Linked DNA regions of Homo sapiens: region 1 is linked to region 2. Evidence: fine-mapped QTL for protein levels in blood plasma. A gene starts in region 2. The other region holds a variant in brackets. All regions are shown on one strand. Distances are from middle to middle.

Region 1 (2,917 bases), 39 kb after region 2:
TATATATATATATATATATATATATATCTCCATATATATCTACCACCTAGATCAAGATATAGACCATATCCAGAACTCCAGCAGGCTCTCTCATACCTATTTTGTTAATTCTACCCTAAAATATTCAGATCTGTATCACTGTGAATCAAGTTTTCTGCTTTGGAACTTTACATAAATACAATTATGCAATATATACTCTTTCTTCTTTCACTCAATATTATGTCTTTCGATTCATCCATGTTGCATGTAGCATTGTTACATTCTTTTTCATTGTTATGCAATATTTTATAGTATGAATATACTGTGAAAATTAGTTTTGTAAAAATTTTCTTATAATTCATCTGGCCTTGAAAATGCTCTAAAGAAATCAAGACCAACCTCACATTTCTCTTATTGTGGTGACTTTGTTTTCTTTCCTGGATATGTGAAGAAATTTTATAATTATCATTAAGTTAAGGACAATTTAATCAAGATCTGTTTTCTCTTCTTTTTTTTTTGAGACAGAGTCTCACTCTGTTGCCCAGGCTGGAGTGCAGTGGCATAATCTCCGCTCACTGCAAACTCCGCCTCCTGGGTTCAAGCCATTCTCCTGACTCAGCCTCCCAAGTGCCTGGGACTACAGGCACCCACCACCACACCCAGCTAATTTTTTGTATTTTTAGTAGAGATGGGGTTTCACTGTGTTAGCTAGAATGGTCTCGATCTCCTGACCTCGTGATCAGCCCGCCTCAGCCTCCCAAAGTGCTGGGATTACAGGTGTGAGCCACCGCGCCGGGCAAGATCTGTTTTCTTTAACAGTTTTAGCTGGAGCCTGATTGTTTCACATTGATCCATAGAGCTGGTTCCTTTATCTTTCTTATTTCAAGGATTTTAAAAATTATTAAAAATTACATGTTTTACAGTGTTTTAATGTGTATATTATTCTCTTCTACGTCAGGCTTTTGGATCATCCTTATACTGAATCTTTTCTGTTTTTGACTCTCAACTAAATATATCGTATTTTCAACAATTGTGTTAGCCTTGTTCTGTTTCTCCTCCTTTGTTTTTTTTTGATTTACTATGAAAATATCAAGCTTTTCTTTTGGGCCAGAAATTAAAATATTATCTATAACATTATCTATGTCTAATCTACTTATTTCTTTTTCTAATTTATTTATTATCTGGGTAATGGTATTGTTTTGGCTCGTTTCCTTATTTATTATACTCTTTCATATCATTCTTTTTAAAATTTAAATCAACTTGTCTTTGAATTCTAGTTTTATTTAATCTATGATTTTTTATACTATGAAGGACTTTCATAGAGTTTTTCTCTGGTATAAGCAAATTAATATATTGCCTAGTGAGCATATTAAAATTTTTGAGAAATAATAATTTAACCTGCTGATAGCATTGCAAATATAAGAAAATATTTTTTCTTTTTCCAGGAAATACAAAAGATATAATAATGATATATGAAGAAGATGCTGAGGAATG[G/C]GCTCTGTACTTGACAGAAGTATTTTTACATGTTGTGAAAAGGGAAGCCATCCTGTTATATCGCTTGGAGAATTTCTCTTTTCGGCATTTGGAGTTGCTGAACTTAACGTCTTACAAATGTAAACTTTTGATATTATCAAATAGCCTGCTTAGAGACCTAACTCCAAAGAAATGTCAGTTTCTGGAAAAGATACTTCATTCACCAAAAAGTGTAGTTACTTTGCTTTGTGGAGTGAAGAGTTCAGATCAGCTCTATGAATTACTAAATATCTCTCAAAGCAGATGGGAGATCTCAACTGAACAGGAACCTGAAGACTACATCTCTGTAATCCAGAGTATCATATTCAAAGGTAGTGTTGCCAAACCTTGTTTGTTTTATTTTTATTTGTTTTTTTTTTTTTGTAATTAAAGAATTGCAAGTTGTTTTAGAACCAATAACTGGTGTCAGGATAGGAATAAGAAAAATGAGAGCTGATTTTATTCAACAGTATGTTGTACTGTCCACAAAATACATTAAGTTTCTTAATTTTTAGCTCTATTCCAATCAAGGCTTATTCCTTGTTCTAAACATGGCTTATAAATATATTCTTTAGGGCAGCCTGGATGAGATCATGGCAGAACAAGTATGGTATGCTCAAGTCATATGACAGTTTGGTTCTGGAAGCTGGTTTCTTATGTAACTGGTGAGGCATGAGTTAATATACTCTAGTGGTGTTACCAGTCAGTAGCAGTTCAAGGTTTGAAGGTCTGGGTTACAATTACAGAGCTTTTAAAATTTTAAGCATGTAACCTTTAGATAAAAGAAAATACCAGGTCCCATTAATTAATTAATTACATTTCCATGTAATAATAAAAATGCTGCAGCTTACAATGTTAAAGCTTCTCCCTTCCACAGTTTTATTCTGCTAGGTGTGAAAGGGGTGCTGTGGTCAGCTGCTTCCCTGGTTTCCTTAGTCTGCCCTTTGCTCTCAACTCCCAGTCTTCTAACTATGGTTTCATGGCTTAAAGGGAAGGAGTGAAGCTATCATTTTATCTTGGCCACACCAGATTAAAAGTTGGCTATTTTTTTTGGAGCAAATTTCTGAGTTTTGGGAAATTCCTTATTCGCTGGGAATGTCTCTCTTGCAGTTTCTTAATAAGTCAAATAGTCCCTCTTCTCTAAGATCATAGCTGTGGTTGTCTAATGCATATAGATTCTTACTGTTGAGTTCTATGGCTCCTTCATGTGTCTCTCATGATGAAAATGGCACTGAGATACCTCCTGGCTGGGTGTTTCTCCTACCTTGTCCACATCTATCTGAAGATAAACCTTCCTTTATCTTCATTTATCTTTTTCCGGACAAACTCTGGGCATACAAGCCATTCCCAGAGTAGCTATCACCATCCTGCCCTCAGAGCAGCAGTACAGCCACAGTCTCTTGCCTTTAGTAATTTCCAAACCTGG
Region 2 (2,917 bases):
ATTATAAATCTTATTTTCTATAGTTTTATTAGGAGACAGTGTTATAACATTTTATATCTGGCAGAAACTCGAATACAGTAATTTTAATTTATTCATTAATAATGAATAAATTAGATGAGATACGCAAGGCTCAGAAATATTAAGAATTGCTCCAAACACCCAGATATTGTGGAGCAGAGTCAGGATGGCAGCTGCAACCTTCTGACTTCCAATCCAGGGCTCTTCATACAAGAAGGCTGTCCTGTATATGTGACAGATACAAGTTCCTATCTGAACACTGTCTTTATTAACAAGTTTTCGTGTGCATAAATGGGTGCCTTTGAAGATCTGGATACTTAATTGGGGAGCATCATCTGGAGTGTTCATGTTGGCTAAAGTAGCTCTTGTCAGGAATACGTATACCAGCAGATGCATCAGTTAGAATATTCTTTTCTCCAATGGGTTTAAGACATACTTTCCTAAGAATTGAGTTTCTGAAACACTGAACAACACCCAAACCCTGCAATCCAAATTTGTTTTTGCCTATTACACTGAAGTCTCTCTGTTAACAGGCATATATAGAAGACAACCATTTTTTTCAATATAATATTTCATAAGTTAGATGAAATCTTTTGTTCCATTATATAAAGTTCAGAAAATCAACATAAAATTAATAATGATGTTAAAGAAACTACTGGAAACCAGATAAATACAATACAATCTATAATTGTTTTCAAGTTTTTTGGACATTTCGCATACTTCTCCAAGTTTTCTACATTATGTTATAAAGTTCTAATAAGTTCATTTATGTGAAAAAATTAACTTTTTTTGATACTTGATATTTATATTATTACTAAAAAGCACTTCATCCGAGAGAAAGTTTCAAAGAAAGCCTTCCTTTTATAGGAAGAGGAGAGGAACATTTAAACTATGTATTATTACCAAATTGATATTCAAAAAATATATTCAACTTCAAAAGGCAAATGACTAGTTTAGACATGCTTGAGAGAGAGACATTCACTTTAAGGTTCTGGGACAACTCCTTTGATATATCTCCATCTTAAAAACAAGCAAACAAACTCTTGTTTGGAGAGGGTATTTAGAGCCATAAATAATTTTTTACTGGGTCTATTTTTGAGTTGGAGCAGGAGTAAGAAATACATTTTATATGGAATTTTAAATCACTTTTCAATTTATGAACCTAGCCTAGAAAGTCTGTGTAAAATGAAATATTTTAAAAGTTACAGTATTATCTGTATCTTCATTTCTATATGTATGTATCTATCATCTGTGTACCTACTCATCTATCTATCTAATTATTCTTTCTTTCCAGCAAATGTTCACTTCTGGTTTCCCTACGTCTGCCTGGAAGTGGGGGCAGTATGGCAGTATGGAAGACCTAGAAAGGGACAAGGAGAGCTACAATAACAGCGGTCTAAATATATCCTAGGATGAAAAGGTGAGGAAGGAAACAGGCGCAGAAGTGTTATAAGAAACCAAAGCGGCCTTTTGAGAAGGGATGTAAGAGCAGGCCCCTGAGCAGTTTCACTTCCTCTGGGCGCCCAGCAGAGCGGAGCCCTGGCCTTGCGGGCATGAGCCCCGGGGCTGCGTTTCCTGAGACCTGGCCGCAGCCTCCGCGGGTGGCAAGCGGGCTGGGGAGAGCCGAGGGCCAAAGGAAGAGAAAATCGCGGGGAGTCTCTGGCCGGGAGAGTCCAGGTAGCGCTCGGCGGGCAGCAGTGCGCAGGCCCCTCGGCTTCAACCGCCACAATGCTGCCAGCAGCGCCAGGCAAGGGGCTTGGGAGCCCGGACCCCGCCCCCTGCGGCCCAGCGCCCCCAGGTGGGTAGTCGCGCATTCGGAGGGGCTTGACGCCGAGGCCGGGCTACGGGGCTCTGCGGAGACCACGGGCCATCGTTAGACAACTGCACTCGGGCACTGAGGCCAGGGCGTCCCTGAGACAGGGCTTCTCCTTTTTATCCTGCCGCCAGGCAGCCCAGAGGGTTCTTCTGTCCCTGACTTCTCTGAGGGGCATCTGGACGCCACGAGGAGGGAGCGCGCTGGGAGTTCTGGCCAGCGGGCTACCCTCAGTGTCTGCAACTTCTGAGGAGCTGGAACTTTCCCCAGCACCCGGGTCAGGGTCCTGTAGTTTCTAAAATCACTTTGCAACCTGTTTTAAAGCAATGCGCGTTTAAAATTATACGTAATTATTTTCAACAGTCGGTAAGCACAGAAAAACCGCTCATGTGTAGCGTCACGCATTTACCTGCCCGGCCTGACAAATCCCAGCCTGGTGAATTGGTAGCCCTGCTTCTTGGCAGGTGGCTTTGCAGAGAAACTCTACCAACACCACCTCCCTACTCCACTGGCTTTACTAACTTGGTCAAAGGAAAACGGTCAACTTGGTTGAATGCAGAAGTAGATTTATATTTTCAAATGGACGTTAAGGCAGTTTTATTTAGTTCTTTTTGAAGCATTTCAAATGCATTTGCAAATTACTCAGTGATATAAAAATGTTTTTTAAATTAAAAAACTTCACTTAGGTATTAATATTACTGGAGTGTTCGTGGTGAGAAATGCAACAAGAAAGTATATTCTGAGTGAAAGTTTCTTAATTTGCTGAATAGAAATAAATTTCTCATACCTTTCTAGAATTTTTTAGGTAATGTAATTTTGGTTGTAGCTATTTCTGTTGGCTAGTGCATTTTTACATAAATAAGCTTTAGGGATTGCTTTCAGTTAAATAAGAAGTATATTTGTGTCAATGAAAAGTGACAAGAAAGGACTTAGAGCCCATAACTTAATATTATTAATATTTTAACTATTGCATATTGACATTCTTGAAAACTGTGGCTCTGATGGTCTTCAGCAGAGCAGACTTTGCTAGCATCTATAAATAAACCAACCATGTCTTTCAAACTTTGAGCAGGTTACCTCTTTTGT

Direction of the effects. Positions count from the first base shown, and alleles are read on the strand shown. Strength reflects both the effect of a copy and how common the allele is.
For the plasma level of the protein whose gene starts at base 1,596 in region 2, G is the high allele of the variant in region 1 and C is the other (weak association).

The links. A credible set is the group of variants that fine-mapping cannot tell apart. PIP is the chance, under the fine-mapping model, that this variant and not a neighbour inherited with it causes the effect. The UK Biobank Pharma Proteomics Project read protein levels with antibody pairs (Olink). The fine-mapping took linkage between variants from a reference panel, not from the people measured, so its PIPs are less certain.
Region 1: its variant is the best candidate, but not a certain one, in a credible set for the plasma level of the BANK1 protein (UK Biobank, PIP 0.51). The variant lies in the coding sequence of BANK1. If it changes the protein, the assay may bind it differently, which can mimic a change of level.

Annotation. Positions count from the first base shown.
Region 1 is chr4:101,828,384-101,831,300 of GRCh38, forward strand. BANK1 (B cell scaffold protein with ankyrin repeats 1) reads left to right here. Exons shown (of 17, transcript NM_017935.5): 2 at 1,425-1,823. Among named protein-coding and RNA genes, the nearest start is that of BANK1, 39 kb to the left of the region's middle. The variant G/C (reference allele first, on the strand shown) is at 1,474.
Region 2 is chr4:101,789,135-101,792,051 of GRCh38, forward strand. BANK1 (B cell scaffold protein with ankyrin repeats 1) reads left to right here and starts at 1,596. Exons shown (of 17, transcript NM_017935.5): 1 at 1,596-1,816. The coding sequence starts at 1,747. RefSeq lists a silencer at 1,683-1,872.